Linked DNA regions of Homo sapiens. The protein of the gene in region 1 interacts with the protein of each later gene in a biochemical or structural test. Each region holds a gene or a part of one and is shown in the gene's direction. Other genes may lie near its edges. The genes, in order: RABGEF1 and MON1A.

Region 1 (10,902 bases):
GTGAGGCCTCTCTCCCCAGCAACTGCAGTCGCTGTGCTCAGTTTTTCTTCCTTGTTTTCATTTATGCCTGACTTCCTTCTAGCTGTCACCCGTGTGTCTGCACACCTTAATGTTCAGCCAAAGATTGTTGTTTCAGACAAAGATTGAGATTGCGCTCAAACATCTCAATCTTTAGTTAGGCTTCCACTCTGATCAGCAGAGCATGTGCATACACAGAGGAGACACAGGAGAACCTTGTAAAAATAAGAGTGAGGTTAGAGGGGAGGGCTTGAAATTTGAGTTCATTCCTTGGCCTGGACGTAGATGCATTGCAGAAAGTGGAAGTTTTGTCCATCTTTACAGTTGCTTTTGCAGGAGAGGATTTATTTTCCTTCTCACTTAGTCATGCTAGAAGACAGAACTCTACATCTCAAGTTTTATGTCTTAAGATAGAGATCTTATCATGCTTTCCCCTTTTCAGGAGCTTTCAGTGGTGACTTTCAATCCAGACTCTGTAGCTTAGAGTTTTAAAAAGCCATCATGATTTGACTTCCCACCTAAGTTGTTTAGTTTACCTTCTGTCTGTGCTACATCATTCATATTTTACACTTGCCTTCTTGCTTCTGAGCTTTTTGTGAAAGGCATCCTTCCTGTCCAGAATGCCCTCCCTCTTTCTGTCATCCTTCCAAGACCCTTTCAACACAAGGCTCTTTAAGGTCTATCGCCAGCATCCCCAAGTGGTCTCTCTATACTCCGTAAGTGAGAATTCCTATGTCTGTTGCTCCCTAACAGTTTCCTAACACTTTCTCTTTTTCTGCGTTTTTCAGTCTGCCTGTACTTTTGGTTATGAGCTTCATGAGGGTAAGGACATGTTCTATGAGTTGCATCACCAGTGCCATCTAGCTCAATTCTCTGCACACAGTTGGCACTTAGTAAATGTTTGAGTTAAATTAATAAGATCCCCAAGATATAGGGCTTAATTTTATCTGCACATGTGAGTCTTCTTGAATGAATGGTGTGGAGTGCTGCTTTTTTTCTGTGCTTGTTTGGCAGTTTGTTTATATGGAGAAGAATGAAGACCATGTGGTTTCAGTTTGAACGGAAATTGTTGCATAGCGATTTACCATACAGCTGTGAGACTGAACAAATGAGTTTAAATATTATACAGTAGAAAAGAAAACTGACTTTGGAACTTAAGGTATTATTTCAATTTTTTTCTCTTCTCTTCTCTCTAGACAAGGCCTCGCTCTGTCACCCAGGCTGGAGTGCAGTGGTGTGATCATACCTCACTGCAGCCTCCAACTCCTGGGCTCAGGCAATCCTTCTGTCTCAGCCTCCCGATTAGCTGGGACTACAGGCATACACCATCACTCCCAGCTAGTTGTTGTGTTTTTTGTAGAGATGGGATCTTGCTGTGTTGCCCAGGCTGGTCCTGAACTCCTAGCCTCAAGTGATCCTCCCACCTTGGCCTCCCAAAGTGCTGGGATTACAGGCATGAGCCATTATGCCCAGCCTGGGTTTGTTTTTTTTTACAGTAGCCATCCTAATGGGTGTAAAGTGATATCTCATTGTGATTTTGATTTGCATTTCCCTGATGATTAGTGATGTTGAGCATTTTTCACATTTGTTGGCTGTTGGTATGTCTTTGGAGAATTGTTTATTGAAGTCCTTTTCCCATTTGTTAATCGGATTATTTGGGTTTGTTGTTGTTGTTGTTGTTGTTGTTATTGAGTTGTAGGAGTTCCTTCGTATTTTAGATATTAACCCCTTATTAGATATATGGTTTGCAGATAAGTTCTCCCATTCTGTGTGTTGTTCCTTTTTACCCTGTCAGTTGGTTCCTGTGTTTTGCAGATATTTAATTTTTAAAAATTTTTTATTTCTTTTGAGACAGAGTCTTGCTCTGTCACCCAGCCTGGAGTGCAGTGGCGTGATCTTGGCTCACTGCAGGCTCTGCCTCCCAGGTTCACGTGATTCTCCTGCCTCAGCCTCCTGAATAGCTGGGACTACAGGCGCCCGCCACCACGCCTGGCTAATTTTTTTGTATTTTTAGTAGAGACAGGGTTTCACCGTGTTAGCCAGGATACTCTCAATCTCCTGATTTTGTTATCCGCCCTCCTCAGCCTCCCAAAGGGCTGGGATTACAGGTGTGAGCCACCACACCGGCCTGTGCAGACATTTTAAAGTTTGATATAATGTATTTGTCTGATTTTGCTTTTGTTGCCTGTGCTTTTGGTGTCATATCCTAGAAGTCATTGCAAAATCCAGTGTCGGGAAGCTTTTCCCCTAAGTTTTTTTTCTAGGAGTTTTCTAGTTTGCAGCCTTTACATTTAGGTCTTTAATCTAATGTGAGTCCTTTCTTAATTTTTTATTTTTTATTTTTTATTTTGGGCAGGGAATAAGTCTTTCTTTAATATGGCTGTGTCAGGAATTTACTATATTTAACATTCTTTTTTCTTCCTTCCTCCTCTTTCTCCCTCCCTCCTTCATTCCCTCCATCCCTCTCTTAACAGCTTGAAGATAATGGAATCACTCACTTTTTGTTCATAATTGGTAAGATTTTATTTAGTAGAATGATAATTCATTTTCAACAGCACTTTCTTGTTTGTTCAGTGGTTAGCAGGAAGAAGATGAGCCTTAAGTCTGAACGCCGAGGAATTCATGTGGATCAATCGGATCTCCTGTGCAAGAAAGGATGTGGTTACTACGGCAACCCTGCCTGGCAGGGTTTCTGCTCCAAGTGCTGGAGGGAAGAGTACCACAAAGCCAGGCAGAAGCAGATTCAGGAGGACTGGGAGCTGGCGGAGCGGTAAAAGGACTTAACTAGGGGCGGTTGAACAGTGACGTGACTGGATACATAGTTCTGTCACCGTCTAAATACATTTTTTCACTTCTGCTTTGAGCTATCAGCAAGTCAGTTTAATATTAAGGAAAAGGATGTTTTCCTCTCTTCTTCTCAGTCAGCTTTTAATGAACAGCTTTCAGTAGTTTCTTCATTTTGTGTTTGTCTTCTGATTATTTTCTTTGGGTTGTGTTAGTTTTAGTTCTCAAATGTAGACAATAAGCTCCTTGGAGTGGAAGAATGGAGATAGGCATATTTCCTGGTGAAGATTAAATGAGCTAATAAATTTGACGTACCCACTGCAGGGCTTGGAAATGGCACTCATCAAGCATTATTTCCCTCATTCTTTTAATATATATTTAGCATGGCATCTAGCTCAGTGATAAAACACAGTAGTAGAAATCTGTTGACTTGTATACATAGTCATTGCATTGTAGAAATTTAACTTATATTTAAAAATTAGGTTAGCATTTGGTATTATCCGGAAATATAATGATGTTAAAAATTAAACGATGGGCCGGGCGCAGTGGCTCACGCCTGTAATCCTAGCACTTTGGGAGGGTGAGGCAGGAGGATCATCTGAGGTCAGGAGTTCGAGACCAGCCTGACCAACATGGTGAAACCCCCTCTCTACTAAAAATATTAAAAAAGTTAGCCGGGCATGGTGGTACGCATTTGTTATCCCAGCTACTTGGGAGACTGAGGCAGGAGAATTGCTTGAACCCAGGTATCGGAGGTTGCAGTGAGCTGAGATCATGCCACTGCACTCCAGCTTGGGAGACAGAGTGAGACTCTGTCTCAAAAAAAAATAAATAAATAAATAAATAAATGATGGGATGGCTAGTGAGCATAGGAACTAATAAAATGCCATGAATAATGTTAATTCTTTGCCAGAGCATTCTAGAATTCTAAAACTGCTTCAACAGAAGAAAGTCAAATGGAATTCTGCCAACTCCTCTAGCTAGTTGTTTGTTTTTTTTTTTTCATCCAGTCAGCCAATATTTGTTGAGTGACTCCTTTGCTGTCATTTGTAGTGAACTCAGAGAATTAGAAATTACACATTGCTTTCAGTGACTGTGTTCAATCAAAGAGAGAAAATTTTAGCCGAGAACATGAATGATCTCCTCAGGGTTTCCACTGCATGCCTGATGCTGTCAGTAGCAGATCCTGTTTCAAAAACAGAGTAGAGGCCACTAGGCACAAACTCCCTCAGCTTCCTCCCCTCACCACATAAAAATGTCCTAGTACCTTTATATTAACTTCTTGTCTGTCCCAGAGAAAGAGGGGTCCCGATTCCACCCTCAGACTTAGCACCTCCACCTGTGATTTTTGTTTCTATTTCTTACTGCTTTTAATTGTGACCCTGCTAAATCTCTCGGAAAGCTTGTAAAAGCAGTGATTGCTGGACCTTACCCACAGAGTCTCTGATTTTAGTGGCTTGGGAGTAAGACTAGAGAATTTGCATTTCTGACAAGTTGCCTGGTGATGCTGCGCTGCTGTCTGGGGAATCATACTTGGAAAATCATTGTCTTTTAGATAGTGCTTGTGCTTTTTGTTTGTTTGTTTGTTTTTGAGACAGGGTCTTGCTCTGTTACCCTGGCTGGAGTGCAATGGTGCAATTTCAACTTACTGCAACCTCTGCTTCCTGGGCTCAAGTGATCCTCCTGCTTCAGCCTCCCAAGTAGCTAGGACTACAGAAGTATGCCACCATGCCCAGCTAAGTTTTGTATTTTATGTAGAGACAGGGTTTCACCATGTTGCCCAGGCTGGTCTCAAATTCCTGAGCTCAAGTGATCCGGCCGCCTTGGCCTCCCAGTGTGCTGGGATTACAGGCGTGAGCCACTGCACCTGGCCTGTGTTTGGGAATTAATACAGGTGGTTCACATGCAGCTAATCCAAAGCCAAATTTATTGCTTTTATTTATTATTCTCCGCATTCTGAACATTTTCCTCCTAACCCTTCTCCTGAGTCAATTAATGGCATCACTACTTACCAAGTTAGCTAAAAAACCTTGGTTTCATTCTTGATTTCTCTTTTATCTCCCATGCTAGCTACAACTTGACCAAGTTCTATTTCTTCCAACTCAGAAAAGTCTTTTGAATTTTACCTTTTGTACTCCTATTTTCCAGGTGCTTATTTTCTTTTACTTAAACCTTTATAATATACTCTTACTTCTTGTTCCTGTCTCTAGTTTCTCTACCCTTCAAGTTGTTCACACAGCTACCTGCATGATCTTTCTAAAGTACAGATCTGACAGCGATAACTCCTTGGATTTACAGTCTTTCTTGCTTCCCTACCACATGATGAAATCCAGAATAGTGGGCTCAGCAATCAAGATTCCCTACCCTCTGGAGCCTTCCTGTATATCCAGCATCACAGTTCATCACACGCCCAGTGCTCTGGCTACATTCAGCTTGTTGTGAAGCAAACCACAGGCTTGCACATTTGTAGTTCCTTCTTTCTGGAATGTCCTTTCACTTAGAATCCTATTCAGCCTTATTAGTCAGGTGTGGTGGTGTGCGCCTGTAGTCCCAATAACTTGGGAGGCTGAGGGATGAGAATTGCTTGAACTCGGGAGGCAGAGGTTGTAGTGAGCTGATACCATGCTATTACACTCCAGCCTGGGCGATGGAGTGACACTCTGTCTCAAAAACAACCAAAAAAAGGATCCTATTTATCCTTTAAGACCTCACCCAAACATCACCGTTGTAAAGCCTCGTCAGACTCCCCCAGCAGATTGAGTTGTTCTTTCCTGTGTTCTCACAGCACTCAACTTTTACTCTCTGATGTAGCAGCTGTCCCATTCTGTAGCAGTTGTTTACTTACCTTTTTGTCTGTTCCAGCCTTGAGCTTGTTAGGGAAAAGGATTAGACTTGATTTCTTTCATGTAACCCTAGAGCAGTAGCTGAATGAGTATGAGAAGACCCCATTTGAAATCTGTAGTGCATGAAGAGCCGTCCATCCTGTAGCAATGTGAGACCTCAGACTGATTTGGCATATTTAGTCTCTAGGTCTAAAATCTTTAGATCCTCCTGAATTAATGGAGTAATAACCTTCACATACAGAGAAACCTTGGAGAATATCTAGGTCATTCTAATCCTCTCTTGAATTGCAGACTCCAGCGGGAGGAAGAAGAGGCCTTTGCCAGCAGTCAGAGCAGCCAAGGGGCCCAATCCCTCACATTCTCCAAGTTTGAAGAAAAGAAAACCAACGAGAAGACCCGCAAGGTTACCACAGTGAAGAAATTCTTCAGTGCATCTTCCAGGGTCGGATCAAAGAAGGGTAATGTTCTGATACTCTTTTTTTTCTTCTCTGCCTGAGTGAGACACAGAGGAGATCCCCAATGCTCATAAGCTCAGCTTTGTAATTTCTGTCAACTTTTTGAGAACATCAGCTCAGATTTGACACTGAAATTGGGCTTGAGGGTCAGACAGTATATGAAATCAATACTCTCTTTGGTTGAAAGACATTGTGTTTTAGAGAAATTTGTTTATAGGAGGAATCAAGAGAATTGAAATAGGTACTTTTGCTTATGAAATTCATCCCCATCCAAATGACTATCTCTTTGGATGTTTTGGTTTTTGTGCCTTTATTTGTGGATCCTGGTTTGTTCTGTGGTATAATACCCTCACTGTTCATAGCTTGTCAGAAATGGTGATTTCTAGGCTTGATAGTCATCTGAGAGAGAGATTTTCTGCCTGAGAGCTTATTTGAGAGACAGCTTGTGTCTTGAGGAAGTGTATTGAGAACATATAGGAAAAGGCCCAAGTTGGGCTCTTGGGGGGATGAAAGTGAGCCATAGTAGCTATTTTCCAGTGCATGGATTTGTATGTAGGTGATCATATTCACCCTGCTTTTTAAAATGCCATATAACCAGCAAGAGGATTGTCACTTAAGTCACAGTTGTTCTACCATTGAGCAGACTAGCTAGTTGAAGTGGCCCAACATGAAGCAAGAAAGACTCTTTGTTGTTAGGCCTCAGTCTGTCTTTGAAAATTTATGTTGGTACTCAGAGTTATGCAGTCAAAGCGAAATAATGAGGGAGACTGGGAACCAACACTGATGCTGTCAGAAGACCTGTTCTCTGGGAGCCCCCTCACTTGCTCCCCAGTTCCTACCCTGGGGTAATTGTAATGAGGTCTCCCCTGAAGGCCGGGGAATGAATAATAAGACAGTGTTACTTCTTAAGATACTTGCTGGTCTTCTAGGTTTTGTGACTTTTGCTGTTTCCTTTTGTTTTATTAAAAGGAAATATTGCTCATAACCAAAAACACACCTCTCTTTAAGACATGGATACCAGACCTGGTGCGGTAGCTCAAGCCTGTAATCTCAGCGCTTTGGGAGGCCAAGACAGATGGATTACCTGAGCTCAGGAGTTTGAGACCAGTCTGGGCAACATGGTGAAACCCCGCCTCTACAAAAAATAGAAAAATCATCCAGGCACAGTGGCATGTGCCTGTAGTTCCAGCTGAGGCCAGAAGGCTGAGGCAGGAGAATCATTTGAATCTAGGAGGAGGAGGTTGCAGTGAGCCGAAATCGTGCCATTGCACTCCAGCCTGGGTGACAGAGCAAGACCCTGTCTAAAAAAAGGAAAGAAAAGAAAAAAGATTGATTACATGATTAATTTGAAGTTGTTTCTTGGTTGGCTGCCAGTTGTAGCAATTTTATCTCTACGAAAAAGGGGGGAAAAATTAGTACCTGCCAGAGATTAAATAAGAATGTATTGGGCTCATGATTTATTTATTAGGAGGTGGAATAGCCAGGTAGTAAGGTGACTTTGGAGTCACTCCTGGTTTGAGCCCTAGCTTTGTATTTACCAGCTTTGTGACCTTGGACAGACTAACCTCTCCGAGTCCTGTCCACACTGAGGGACAATAATACCTACCAGAGGCACGTGATGAGGATTCAGTGAGTTAATGCATGTAAAGAGCTTAGCACAGTGCCTGACACACACAGTAGATCTCCAGTAAGTGTTAGCTGTTTTAAAATGCAAGTTATTCTTCTGATAGAATTATCTTGCAGGGAGCACAAGGGCATTTGCTATGAAGAATACTCATTCCTATTTAGCTTAAGGTCTGTTTCTTGATGATATGTAGTGAAATGATAAGTATTTATGATAACAGATGAAATAGTAAAACAAGTATAAAATTATCAGCTCCAATAGCCTCATTTTGCAGAGGACAGTGTGAAAGTCCATAAAGGTTAACTAATTTACCCAAGGTTGCACAATGAGTTTGTGCATGAGAACTCATGTCTCCTAATTCCTGGGTCAATATTTTTCCATTATATTCCTTTATCCAATGTGTATACTTCAGAAGCCCAGGTTATTTAATATATATCATAAATAATATATATATATGAAATTAAGTTTCTGTTACTTAAGTACATAATTGTCATTTATATTTGCTAACTCTCCTTGGTGGTTTTAAAAACCTGTGTCCCAAAAGCCTCTGTACAGTGTGCATTATACTATTGAAAGAAAATTTACAATTCAATGCAGAGTCTGTACTTTAAAAAGAAACATTTCTGGAGCTGGGTGCAGTGGCTTCTACCTACCTATAATCCCAGCTACTTGGAAGACTAAGGTAGGAGGATTACATGAGCCCAGGAGTTAGTGGCTGCAGTGAGCTCTGATTGTGCCACTGCACTCCAGCCTAGGCAGCAGAGTGAGACACCAACATTAAAAAAATTAATTAATTAATAAAGAATCCAGGTGAATTTTGTTTTAAAAATATGTATGCAGAATGATTTTTACCTTTGTTCTTGTCTCCCCTCATCCCCCATCTTTTTGAATGATAGATTTGTACTTTAGATTGTTTGTTCTTTAGTTGCTTTTTGTCTGTAGAAAGCTTTGGGGATAAAGACCTTAAAGTATTTTAAAAATTCATGTTAGAAAAGAAGATTCCATTGTATCTTTGTTTCACAGATCACTTAATATAACTTAGCCAGGTAAATTTTGCATTTCACACTGATTACTTTTGTTTGGCCATTGTGTTTGGATAAGATTAGCCTAAGTGCCGTTTTAATGTATTAGGTCTAGACTAGAAACAGACTTTTTGGATTCTGTATTCTTGAATCTTCCTTAGTCCATGATACCCTTGCTGTTGGTGTTTTACTTGCTTCTGTTAGTAGCATAAAGGAAAGTTTTTATGCCATACGTAGCAGCTTGGTAGCAGACAAAATACAAATAACCTTCTAAGGAATTTGAAGAATATCTTCACATTCTTTTAGAGTTGGATACGCCTTCAGAGAAAGTAAATGGAATGTCTTGACTGTAAAGACTCAGTTAAAGTGTTTTAGTCTCTACAGTCAGGGTGAGTGAGCTGTATAGAGGAAGTCATAGTGGTTGACCAAGCTGAGATACTTGCTTATACATTCCAAAGTGCCCTTTTCTTTCAGAACTCCTATAATGTTGTCATTCCAAGTAGAATCTTGTGTACCTCTTTCATGAACGGATCTGAAGACGGTGATTCTCTAAAGCATATCTTTTCATTTTTAGAGTTAAAATACCAATACCACCCAGACCTTAGAAAGTAAACCTATTATTCATTAAAGTGAATCAGGGCTTCTTGGAGAAGTGACTGATTCTGGGGCTAGAGTAGGGAAAAAAGGGCCCCTTCAATATTTTGGGGACATTTCAGAAGATCCAGAAGCCAGCTTGGAGGGGTTTCCACTGGCCAAGTCTGGGATAATTTGAATGTCAAAATAAATAAGGACAATAAGGCCAGGCACGGTGGCTCAGGCCTATAATCCCAGCACTTTGGGAGACCAAGGCAGGCAGATCACCTAAGGTTGGGAGTTTGAGACCAGCCTGACCAACGTGGCACAACCCCGTCTCTACTAAGAATACCAAATTAGTCAGGTGTGGAAGTGTGCGCCTGTAATCCCAGCTACTTGGGAGTCAGAGTCAGGAGAATCGCTTGAACCCGGGGAGTGGAGGTTGCAGTGAGCTGAGATCGTGCCACTCCAGCCTGGGCAACAAAGTGAGACTCCGTCTTAAAAAATAAATAAAATAAAATGAAGAAATCTATAAATAAGGACAATAAATGAAGTATAACTGATTGAACAAAAATCATAATCCGTGTGTTAATTTAGTAAAATAGAGAAATACGGCTGGCACAGGGGCTCACGCTTATGATCCCAGCACTTTGGGAGGCCGAGGCAGGTGGATCACCTAAGGTCGGGAGTTCGAGACCAGACTGGCCAACATGGTGAAACCCTGTCTCTACTAAAAATACAAAAATTAGCTGGGGGTGGTGGCACGTGCCTGCAATCCCAGCTGCTTGGGAGGCTGAGGCAGGAGAACTGTTTGAACCTGGGAGGTGGAGATTGCAGTGAGCCAAGATCGTGCCATTGCACTCCAGCCTGGGCAACAATGTGAGGCCCCCATCTTTAAAAAAAGAAAAAAAAATTAAAAAATTAGCTGGGCTAGTGCCTGTAGCCCCAACTACTTGGGAGGCTGAGATGGGAGGATCATTTGTGCCTGGGAGGTTGAGGCTGCAATGTGCTGTGATCATGCAACCGTACTCCAGCCTGGGTGACAGAGCGAGACCCTGATTAAAAAAAAAAAAAAAAACACCAAAAACACAAGGTGACTTTTAAGTTTAGGAGCAAGCACTTGCTGTTTGAGCCCTAGCCAAAATTATGAACTGTAACGTGGATGAGGTTGTTCTTTTCCATATTTCCTACTTCTTCACTTCTTTCATCTTACACACGGAATCCCTATTGGCTGTTCAAACATAAGTCGCCTCCTCCCTGCATACCGAACACCTGAGCTGTCTCTCACTTTCCCCTCTCTAATCCAAACTTCTGGCCTCTTAGTAGGGATTGATTTTTAGGAAGCTTGGAGAAAAACAACCAAGTGTTGATTTTAGTAACTTGTATGATCATAACTAGCTAGTAGAGTTAATCCTCATTTACATTTTAAAAGGGTTTTTTTTGTTTTAAAGCAAAAGTGTGTCTTTGGAAAAGTATGTGTGGGAGGGAGGCATGTTGTAAGCAAAGCAATAAAGGAAATGAGTAGGATTTTCCTGTGTTTTGACTGGTGTACAGACCTCCAAAGTCAGAGGAGTTGGTGTTCT
Region 2 (11,326 bases), on another chromosome or scaffold:
CCCTGGAGACAGAGGTTGCAGTGAGCTGAGATTGTGCCACTGCACTCCAGCCTGGTGACAGAGACTCCAACTCAAAAAAAGAAAAAAAAAAAGATACACAATCTCTCTGGTGGTGGTAATGCTATGGAGAAAAATAAGGGAGGGAAGGAGAGTGAGGAGTTCTGGTGGGAAGTTGTAACTTTAGAGCAGTGAGGGAAGGCCTCACTGAGCTCTTGGAATAAAGACCCAAAGAAGATGAGAACCAAGCTATTGGGATACCTGGGGAAAGAATGTTCTGAACAGAAAGAATAGCAAGGCCAAAGGCCCTGAGGTATGAGCATGACTAGAATTTTTAAGGATCATTAAGGAGTCTGGAACAGAATTGTTTTGGAGAAGTGTGATGAGACAAGTCAGTCTTGGTCAGAAAGGTGTGGAGGTTGCAGTACAGTGGCACGATCATAGCTCACTACAGCCTCGAACTCCTGGGTTCAAACAATGTGGTTGGATTATTGCAGCAGCCTCCCAACTAGCTGTTCTGCTTCTCCCCTTTCCCACCTTCAGTCTGTTTTCCACACAGCAATCAGAGGAATCCTGTTAACATGGAATTCAGGTTATGATATCTCTCTGTTCAGAGCCCTCTAACAACTTTCCATCTCCCTCCTTACAGAAACCAAATTCAGCAGCCTACAAGACTTGGAAGAAGCCACAATCATGCCACTGTATTTCAGCCTGAGCAACAGAGCAAGACCCCATCTCAAGGAAAAAAAAATTCCAACCACAGAAGGATGGTGCTTGCAGCAGTGTGGCCACAGTAGAAACAGGAGACAGACCTGTTGGACTGGAATGAAGGAAGATAGGGAAGAATTTGGGAGAAACAGTTTTGGTAGGAAGAGCAGGAGCTCAGTTTTGGGTAGGTAGAGTTTTCTAATAACCAGTAGACAAGTGAGATGTGGAGCTGGAAGTCGGTTCCATCAGTCTGGAGTTCAGGATAAAGATCAGGACTAGAGATGCAAATCTGGGAGGTATCAGCATGTTGCTAATATCTAAAGCCACAGGCCTGGATGAGATAACCAAGGGAGTAAAGGAGTAAGCAGAGATGGGAAAGCAAAGTTTAAGCCTTGAACACCTAGGCCACACCAGTGCTAACAGGTTTCAGGGAAGAGGAGGAACAGAACTATGGGTATTTTGGCCAGGTGCGGTGGCTCATGCCTGTAATCCCAGCACTTTGGGAAGGCCAAGGTGGGTGGATCACCTGAGTTCAGGAGTTTGAGACCAGTCTAGCCAACATGGTGAAACCTCATCTCTAATAAAAATGCAAAAATTAGCTGGGCATGGTGGCAGGCACCTGTAATCCCAGCTACTCAGGAGGCTGAGGCAGGAAAATCGCTTGAACCTGGGAGGTGGAGGATGCAGTGAGCCAAGATCACACCACTGCACTCTAGCCTGCGCAACAGAGTGAGACTGTCTAAAAAAAAAAAAAAAAAAAAAAAAAAAGAATTATGGGTATTTTGACTTTGCTTCTCAAACTAGGCCCTAGGCCTTTACTGATGGATCTTTCACTTATCAGATAATACTTTATCCTCTTAAGAGGTATATACCATATTAAGGAACTAATTATTATTGGTTTAGGCCCAATCTCCTTGGGTAATAATAATTGCTACACTTTATCAAACCACGTGCCTGGCATGGTGCTGGCACTTCATCTATGATTTCATTTAATCCTCGTAATAACTATATGACATTATCCCCTGTTTTTTGAGATGGAGTCTCGCTCTGTCACCAGGCTGGAGTGCAGTGGCACAATCTCGGCTCACTGTGACCTCCGCCTCCCCGGCTCAAGCGATTCTTCCATCTTAGCCTCCCGAGTAGCTGGGACAATAGGCACATGCCACCACATCCAGCTAATTTTTGTATTTTTAGTAGAGACAGGGTTTCACTATGTTGGCCAGAATGGTCTTGATCTCTTGACCTCATGACCACCTGCCTCAGCCTCCCAAAGTGCTGGATTACAGGCATGAGCCACTAGCCTGGCCAATATTATCCCCTTTTATAGTTTTTTTTTTTTTTTCCAAGACAGTCTTGCTCTTTCACCCAGGCTGAAGTGCAGTGGCGCGATCTCGGCTCACCGCAACCTCTGCCTCCGCCTCCGCCTCCACCTCCAGGGTTCAAACGATTCTCCTGCCTCAGCCTCCTGAGTAGCTGAGATTACAGGCTCACACCACCATGCTCAGCTAATTTTTTGGTAGTTTTAGTAGAGACGGGGTTTCAGCATCTTGGCCAGGCTGGTCCCGAACTCCTGACCTCAGGTGATCCACCCACCTCGGCTTCCCAAAGTTCTGGGATTATAGGCATGAACCACCACTCCCTGCCTCCCCTTTTATAGTTAAGGAAACCAGAGCCCAGAAAGGTTAAGTAACTTGCCACAGCTGAAAAGTGAAGGCGGAAGAAATGTAACAATTAGACGTCTTGTTCTTCCCCATATTTCTTCTCTTTTCTAGCTTTAGTGAAGATGTCAGAACCTGAGGTGCTGCAAGGTTATAACTCAAGTGTATCCTTGCTGGGTGTGTAGTCTTAATTACTCAGGAGGCTGATGTGGGAGGATGGCTTGGGCCCAGTAGTTCCTGGCCAGTCTGGGCAACATATTGAGACTCTGTCTCAATATAAAAATAAAAACAGTCCAGGCACAGTGGCTCACACCTGTAATCCCAACACTTTGGGAGGCCAAGGTAGGAGGATTGCTTGAGCCCAGGAGTTCCAGACCAGCCTGGGCAACATAAGGAGACGCCATTTCTACAAAAAATTTAAAACTTGCCCAATGTGGTGGCACACACTTGTGGTCCCAGCCACTCGGGAGGCTGAAGTGGGAGGATCACTTAGGCCCAGGAGGTCAAGGCTGCAGTGAGCCACTGCACTACAGCCTGGGTGACAGATTAAGACCCTGACTCAAAAAACAAACAAGGCCGGGCATGGGGGCTCATGCCTGTAATCCCAGCACTTTGGGAGGCCGAGGTGGGTGGATTGCCTGAGGTCGGGAGTTCGAGACCAGCCTGACCAACATGGAGAAACCCCATCTCTACTAAAAATACAAAATTAGCCGGGTGTGGTGGCACATGCCTGTAATCTCAGCTACTTGGGAGGCTAAGGCAGGAAAATCGCCTGAACCCGGGAGAAGGAGGTTGTGGTGAGCCGAGATCGCACCATTGCACTTCAGCCTGGGCAACAAGAGTGAAACACCGTTTCAAAAAAAAAAAAAAAAGTGGATTAAAACAAAGTTTTAAGTAATAACCTAAGATGTTTTAGTAAGTACCCACCATGATTTGCTCTGCGAGAATGTCTTAGGCACAAGTCTTAGCGAGAAATATATGAGATATATGGCCACTTGCTTAGCTAAGTAGATGTAATACTTCCAGATGACAGTAGTACTATCTGGTGGAGCTGATGTGCTTAACAGGAATAGTAAGACTCTGGAAGAAATCCTGAGCTAAACATGGAGACTGTCAAGAACTAGTTAGGTAGAAAACTTTAAATTTGGTCAGGCGCAGTGGCTCACACCTGTAATCCCAGCACTTTGGGAGGCCGAGGTGGGTGGATGCGGATCACAAGGTCAGGAGTTCGAGATCAGCCTGGCCAACATTGGTGAAACCCCGTCTCTACTAAAAATACAAAAATTAGGCTGGACGCAGTGGCTCACGCCTGTAATCCCAGCACTTTGGGAGGCCGAGGCGGGCGGATCACAAGGTCAAGAGATTGAGACCATCCTGGCCAACATGGTGGAACCCCATCTCTACTAAAAATAAAAAAATTAGCTGGGCATGGTGGTGCATGCCTGTAGTCCCAGCTACTTGGGAGGCTGAGGCAGGAGAATCGCTTGAACGTGGGAGGCTAAGGTTGCAGTGAGCCGAGATAGTGCCACTGCACTCCAGACTGGGTGACTGAGCAAGACTTCATCTCAAAAAAACAAAACAAAACAAAAAACTGGCCGGGCGCAGTGGCTCATACCTGTAATCCCAGCACTTTGGGAGGCCGAGATGGATGAATCACGAGGTCAGGAGTTCGAGACCAGTCTGACCAACATGGTGAAACATGTCTCTACTAAAAATACAAAAATCACAAAAATTTGCCGGGCGTGGTGGTACGCACCTGTAATCCCAGCTACTCTGGAGGCTGAGGCAGGAAAATTGCTTGAACGCGGGAGGCGGAGGTTGCAGTGAGCTGAGATCACGTCACTGCACTCCAGCCTGGGCAACAGAGCGAGACTCCGTCTCAAAAAAAAAAAAAAAAAGAAAACTTTAAATTTGTCTTCTGGGCGGGGTGTGGTGGCTCATGCCTGTAATCCCAGCACTTTGGGAGGCTGAGGCGGGTGGATCACGAGGTCAGGAGTTCAAGACCAGCCTGGCCAAGATGGTGAAACCCTGTCTCTACTAAAAATACAAAAATTAGCTGGGCGTGGTGGTAGGTACCTGTAATCCCAGCCACTCGGGAGGCTGAGGCAGAGAACTACTTGAACCCAGAAGGCAGAGGTTGCAGTGAGCTGAGATGGCACCACTGCACTCTAGCCTGGATGATAGAGACTTCATTTGAAAAAAAATAAGTAAATTAAATTAATTTGTCTTCTATGGAGATGAATTCTATAGGGTGTAAATTCAAGTTAATGAAATATAGGCAGGATATTAGCCAGGCATGGTGGCTTATGCCTGTAATCACAGTACTTTGGGAGGCCAAGATGGGAAAATTGCTTGAGGCCAAGAGTTCGATACCAGCCTTGTCAACATAGCATAGTGAAACCACCATCTCTAAAAAAAAAATAAAAAAAGAAAAAGAAAAAGGAAAGGAACATAGCCAGGACATTTCTGTACCAAGCAGAGAATGTTATATCTTGACTTAAACTCTCCTTCCTTCCTTCCTTCCTCCCTCCCTCCCTTCCTTCCTTCTTTCTTAACTTTCTCCTTCTTGTTGTCCATGATCATGGCTCACTTCAGACTTGATCTCCTGGGCTCAAGTAATTCTTCCTGCTTCAGCCTGTGGAGTAATTGGGATTACAAGGCTGTGCCACCAAGCCCAGCTCATGGCTCAAACTCTTATAGTGTAATAATTAGAGAAAACAACTGTATAAATGATTCTTGCCCTAAGGGAGGGAACTTGGACTTCTGAGCTAATGAGGAGATAAAATACTGAGTGATCTGTGGAGACCTGGAGAGACTCTCAGTTAAGGAATAGGGCATTTTCTTATGTCCTTACCTAAAAGTGGGGGACATGGGGGTGAGAAAGCTTCCCTTAGACTATGTGCAAGAACTTGATAGCCTTATGCAAAGCCATCTTCAGTGAAAGGCCACAGCTTTGTCACCATGTCAGTCACAGGCCAGTGTTGTGGAAGCAGGCTACAAGTGGCAGCCATCTGAGACTGGAAGAAAAGCCCAGGGGCGGAGCTCTACCCTAACTCCAGTGTAGGGCTTAGAGAGGAAAAGGACACTGCCCCCAGGTGCTTGTGGAGCAGCAGGGAAAGTCAGAGGAGTGATCTGACTTTTTTTTTCATCCTATTAACTTTTGGGAGAATTAACCATAAGGCTGTAAAGTGAATTAATTGCTTCAGAAAAGAACATGAGCAGTGGTGCCAAACACTAATTTTACTTTTTAAAACCATCTCTAAAAATAAGGGTCTTTTGGGAGAGCCTGTTGTTGACTGTTTTCCTGTTGTTTTTATTGCTTTGCGTCTAGGAAATTACAAACAATGATTCTTTGCAATGGTAAATCACCTGGGGAGCTTTTAAAACAATAGTGATGCCTGGCTCCCCAACACTCCACCCTACTCTAAATTCAATTAAATCAAAATCTCTAGGGCTGGTGTCCAGGCATTAGTTTTTTTGTTGTTGTTTTTGAGACAGGGTCTCGCTCTGGTGCTCAGGCTGGAGTGCAGGGCATGATCATGGCTCACAGCAACCTCGACCTCCTGGAATCCCACTTCAGCCTCCCGAGTATCTGGGACTACAGGCACACGCCATCAAGCCTGGCTAGTTTTTGTATTTTTAGTAGAGATGGGGTTTCACCATGTTGGCCAGGCTGGTCTGGAACTCCTGACCTCAAGTGATCCGCCCACCTCGGTCTCCCAAGTGTTGGGATTACAGGCGTGAGCCGCCTCGCCCGTCCTAGTTCTTTTTTTTTTTTTTTAAAGCTTCCCGGCTTATTCTATGTGCCGTCAGAGTTGAGAACTACCGTTCTAGAGCATTATACTGATACATTAAAACGTGGCTACAAATATGTTTTTAGAAACAATTAGTGCGACTTTTGCGCATGCCCACATCCTTTACAGCCTGTGTGGCTGGGCCCACTAATGACATTTATCCAGTCCCCCAAACTTGCACTGTCCTTCCACAATCAGTGGGAGAAACAATCCTAACGTCCCTTTCTCTCACTTGAAATGAACTGCTAGCTGGCTCGGACGGAGAGGCCCAGAGTCCAGGGCTGTTCTGTGTGGGACTCTAGACTCGGAGGAGGCGCCCAGGCCCCTAGAAGGCGGCGCCGGATGAGGCAATCGCGGACCCGGGTCAGGACCTGCCCACGGCTCTGCTGGGACTAGGAGCCCAGAACCAGTCCCTCGGCGCCGCAGGCGGCCAAACGCTAAGGACTACATTTCCCACAATGCACCCCGGGGGCGGGCCGAGTCGGGCTGAGCGGCTGGAGCTGGGCCTTGGCCGCGAGAGGCCGGCGAAAGCTATCTTCCTGCACCGGCGGCCGGGTGAGGGCGGTGGGAGGGAGCGGTGCCTGCGCTGTGGCCATGTCTGTGTACGCAGGGGGCCGGGGCCCCGCGAAGCTGTGCCCTCAGGCCGGCCCCGGCCGGACACCCTTACCCCTCCATGGGTCCGGCAGAGGGCAGTGACCGGCACCTTCTGTGCGTCCTGGACTCCTCTGAGAAACAGGTGAGTTGACTGCCAGCCCACGTGGCCTGGAGGCACCTAGAGACTGGAGAGCTGTCATCTTTGGAGGGAGGGGCTTGAAGACGGGGGCCTCCAGCCATCAACGCTATCGTTTGCAATGGGAAGACTGTGTCTCCCTGCGGTCCCTCAGCCGGCTAGTCCCCAGCTGGGGAATACAAAAGGCGAGATCTGGAACCCATCCTTTGGCTGGGAGGGCGAGATCCGGTAGGGGGCAGTGGCCAGGTAGGACTCTCCCCACTCCCCCACCCCCGCCCCGCCAACAAACGTACACATATTCGGCCGGTAGAGTCTTCTCAAAAAGCAACAGAGGTAACTGGGATGAGCGGGGCAGCACCTGGAAGGGGCTTGGGTCTTTGCTTTGTTGTTTTTAGACGGAGTTTCACTCTTGTTGCCCAGTCTGGAGTGCAGTGGTGTGATCTCAGCTCTCTGCAACCTCCGCCTCCCAGGTTCAAGCGATTCTCCTGCCTCAGCCTCCCGAGTAGCTGGGATTACAGGCATGCGCCACCACGCCCAGCTAATTTTTTGTATTTTTGTATTTTTTTAGTAGAGACGGGGTTTCACCATGTTGGCCAGGCTCGTCTTGAACTCCTGACCTCAGGTGATCTGCCTGCCTCAGCTTCCCAAAGTGCTGGGATTACAGGCATGAGCCACTGCGCCTGGCCGGACTTTGCACCAGTTTGCCTGGTGCAACTGGGTTGTCCCTTGTACTGGGTGAGCCACCCTTTCTGGGCACAAGTTTGCAGAGGGAGAGTGAGCACCCTTTGTCAGGGAGGGAAGTAACCGCCAGAAGTGACAAGGACCAGACTGTGATCTCAGCATGGAGTAGGCATCCTGCTGAAGCAGCCATAGCACAGCCTCACCTGGGCCTTGTCTGCCACACATCCTGTATCCTGGCACCTCCTTTCCAGACAGGCCGCTCCAAAGGGTTAAGGTGAAATGAAGTGCTATCCAAGCAAGAAGAGGGAGCAGGAGTGGTAGGGAGTCAGTAGGGAGGGGCTTCTGAAGGCCTTCTCTGCTCCAAGGCTGCCTGAGTGAGAGAGGCACACTACAAGGGCTGATTGAGCCAACTTGTTTGGTGACATTGCTCACAGGCATAGCAGGGCACTTCTAGGAAAAGCAAGGCCTGGGGCTTCTAGAGGGGTTGTCTGAGAAGGGTTCCCTGAGAAGGGGCATCTGGGGCTGGTTCTAAGAGACCTCCTTTGCCTAACTTCTTCAATTCTAGCCTCCCAGGAGCTTCAGTTGCACAGTTGTGGCTCCAATGGGGGTTGGGGTGGATTTTGCTGTGATTCACTCAGCCTCCCTGTCTGAGTTTCCAGAGTAAGTATTCAGAGAGCTGTTTGCTTCATCAGGCCTCTGGCTGGACCCCAGACTGACCTAGGAGATGCTGAGATACTGTATGATCTCAGGTGGCAGGAGAACTATTGTGAAGGAAGCATCCACTAGCTCTGGCCAGCTGATCTGGCCCCCGCCAACCCTTCCCCATGCAGGTACCGTGCTGGGTACCACTCAGCCACACTGGGCTTAGTCAGCTAAAGCCCACAAGGGATCAGTGGAGAGTGGGCCCTGAGGACAGAATAAGTAAGCTATTGTAGACCTTGTTTGGGTCTTTGAACCAAAAGTGCAACGTCACAGAGCAGTGGCATGTGGCAGACCAAGGAGTTTTTTGTTTTTTTTTGTTGTTTTTTTTTTTGAGACAGAGTTTCAATCTTTTGCCCAGGCTGGAGTGCAATGGCGCGATATCAGCTCACTGCAACCTCTGCCCCCTGGGTTCAAGTGATTCTCCTGCCTCAGCCTCCTGAGTAGCTGGGATTATAGGCGCCTGCCACCATACCTGGCTAATTAAGGAGTTTAATTTAGGAGATACTTCCAAGAGCAGCAGAGAGCCCGTTGTCTATTCCTGCAACTCCAGAGCCAGTGAACAACCAGTTAGCCTGGAGGAACTCCCAGCTGTCTATAAGACAGCTCTTTGACCTGACTCCCAACTGTCTATATGATAGCCCTAGCCTGAAGGTGAGTCGCTTCAGGCTAGGGCCCACCTGGCTTTGCAAGGTCAGAAGCGTATTTGCCCATATGCCACTGTAGGCTGAGCAAAATCTCAGAGGCCCGATTTACATGGCACAGACCACTGGATTCATGTGGTATTATAAGTGCAGTCACACATGGACTGAATGCTAAGTAAGAATAATCAGGATGTGCTAATGGGAGCAACTGAGTATGTAATCAAATTACATGGATTATTTCATTTAATCTTCCCACAACCCAAGGAATCAATACTACTATCCCATTTTATAAATGAGAAAACTGAGACCAGGCCAGGTTAATCCAGGTCCCTCTAACTTCGGAGCCATTGTTCCTGAACACCTGAGTAGTACCAGTGATAAGTCTTCCCCACAGGCAGGGGTTTCCAGAGGCCACATCACAGGTGTGACAGAGCTGGGCATTCTTCAGAGATCTTTCAGTTTTCCCTTCCATTTTTCTTTTTTAATTGCCTGAGGGATAAAAACACAAGTTCAGCTGGGCGCGGTGGCTCATGCCTGTAATCCCAGCACTTTGGGAGGCCGAGGCCGGTGGATCACCTGAGGTCAGGAGTTTGGGACCAGCCTGGCCAACATGATGAAACCCCATCTCTACTAAAAATACAAAAATTGGATGGGCATGGTGGTACACACCTGTAATCCCAGCTACTCGGGAGGCTGAGGCACAAGAATTGCTTGAACCCAGGAGGCAGAGGTTGCAGTGAGCCAAGATCATGCCACTGCACTCCAGCCTGGGCGACAGAATGAGACTCCATCTCAAAAAAAAAAAAAATCTCCCTCCCAAAGATGTCTGTTGGCTGGATGTGGTGGCTCACACCTGTAATCCCAGCACTTTGGGAGCCCTAGGAGGGAGGATCTTCAGTTCAGGAGTTTGAGAACAGCCTGGACAACATACTGAGACCCCATCTCTACAAAAATAAAAATTAAAAAATTAGCCAGGCGTGGTGGCACGTGCCTGTAGTCTCAGGTACTCAGGAGGCTGAGGTGGAAGGATCATTTGAGCCTGAGAGGCCAGGGCTACAGTTAGCTGTGATTGCATCACTGCACTCCAGCCTGGGTGACAGAGTGAGATTCTGTCTCAAAAAAAATAGAACTCCTCCCGCATGTGGCTTAAAGCCATACTGAAATTTGTGGTAGGTCACAGGGTAACCTTCAATCCAGAGAAATAAAGCAGGGCAAGAGGGGTAAGGAGCAGGGATATTGATAAGGTAATGCTTGAGCAGCAACCTGAAGGGAGTGAGGGACTGAGTCACATAGATAACTAGCCCAGGCAATGGAGTAGGTGAAGTGGGGTGCAGGGGGAAAGTTCAGCAACGGCAAAGTTCTAAAGTTAAAGAGTGCCCAGGAGGCTTAAGGAAAGCCAGGAGGCCACTATGGCTGGGCTGAATCACAGTTAGTGGGGAAAAAGGATAAGAGATGAGGTCAAAGAAGTAATGGGGAAGGAGTTATGTTGAGTGGGGCCTTGTGCACCACTGTGAGGAAATTGGCTTTCTCACTGAGTAAGGTGGGACCATTACAGAGTTGTGAGCAGAGGAACTGCATGACCTGAGTTCTGTATCAAGAGAATCACTTTGCTGTAAGAAGCACAGATTATGCAGGGACAAGGGCAAAAGAGGGGAGACTAGATAGGAGATTACTGCAACAATCTCCTAGAGAGACACTGGTGGCTTTGACCACAGTGGTAGCTGTGGAGGTGACAAGTGGTCAGATTCTGGATATAGGCATTTCCCACTTAACATCAGTAATCTGTTTCATGAAAATTGGACATTCTGTGTGAAATCTTCAACTTAATATATTTTCCATTGATTGATTGATTGAGACAGGGTCTTGCTGTGTTGCCCAGGCTGGAGTACAGTGGCACAATCACGGCTCACTGCAGCCTTGACCTCCTGTACTCAAGCGATCCTCCCACCTCAGCCTCTTAAGTAGGTGGGACTACAGGCATGAGCTGCCCCACCCAGCTGATTTTTTATTTTGTAGAGACAGGGTCTCACTATGTCAGCCAGGCTGGCACTCAGTAATTTTCTATCAGTTCTATTTGGAATATAATTTGAAGCTTTAAATGCACATTACTTTGTTAAAAATATAGATAAGATTTTAATGATGTAAATATACATATTTTCTGTATAAACATACACTGGGCCAGGTGTGGTGGCTCACACCTGTAATCCCAGTACTTTGAGAGGCTGAGGCAGGCAGATCACTTGAGTCAAGGAGTTTGAGAGCAGCTTGGGCAACATAAGGAGACCCTGTCTCTACAAAAAATTAAAAAATTAGCCAGGCATGGTGGCACATGCCTGTGGTCCCAGCTACTTGGGAGGCTGAGGTGGGAGGATCACTTGGGCCTGGGAGGTTGAGGCTACAGTGAACCATGATCAC

What was found.
Region 2: the proteins of RABGEF1 (region 1) and MON1A form a complex in vitro, tested with the Homo sapiens proteins (one study listed by BioGRID).

What each region holds. Positions count from the first base shown.
Region 1 is NC_000007.14:66,769,291-66,780,192, forward strand, and holds part of RABGEF1 (rab5 GDP/GTP exchange factor), read left to right. Parts: intron 1-1,032; exon of another isoform or gene 1,033-1,177; intron 1,178-2,592; coding exon of another isoform or gene 2,593-2,609; coding exon 2,610-2,788; intron 2,789-4,400; coding exon of another isoform or gene 4,401-4,537; intron 4,538-5,936; coding exon 5,937-6,103; intron 6,104-10,902. UniProt on the Homo sapiens protein: Rab effector protein acting as linker between gamma-adaptin, RAB4A or RAB5A. Involved in endocytic membrane fusion and membrane trafficking of recycling endosomes. Stimulates nucleotide exchange on RAB5A. Can act as a ubiquitin ligase.
Region 2 is NC_000003.12:49,925,176-49,936,501, reverse strand, and holds the start of MON1A (vacuolar fusion protein MON1 homolog A), read left to right. Parts: upstream 1-6,690; 5' UTR 6,691-6,893; intron 6,894-6,966; exon of another isoform or gene 6,967-7,133; intron 7,134-7,167; exon of another isoform or gene 7,168-7,220; intron 7,221-11,326. UniProt on the Homo sapiens protein: Plays an important role in membrane trafficking through the secretory apparatus. Not involved in endocytic trafficking to lysosomes.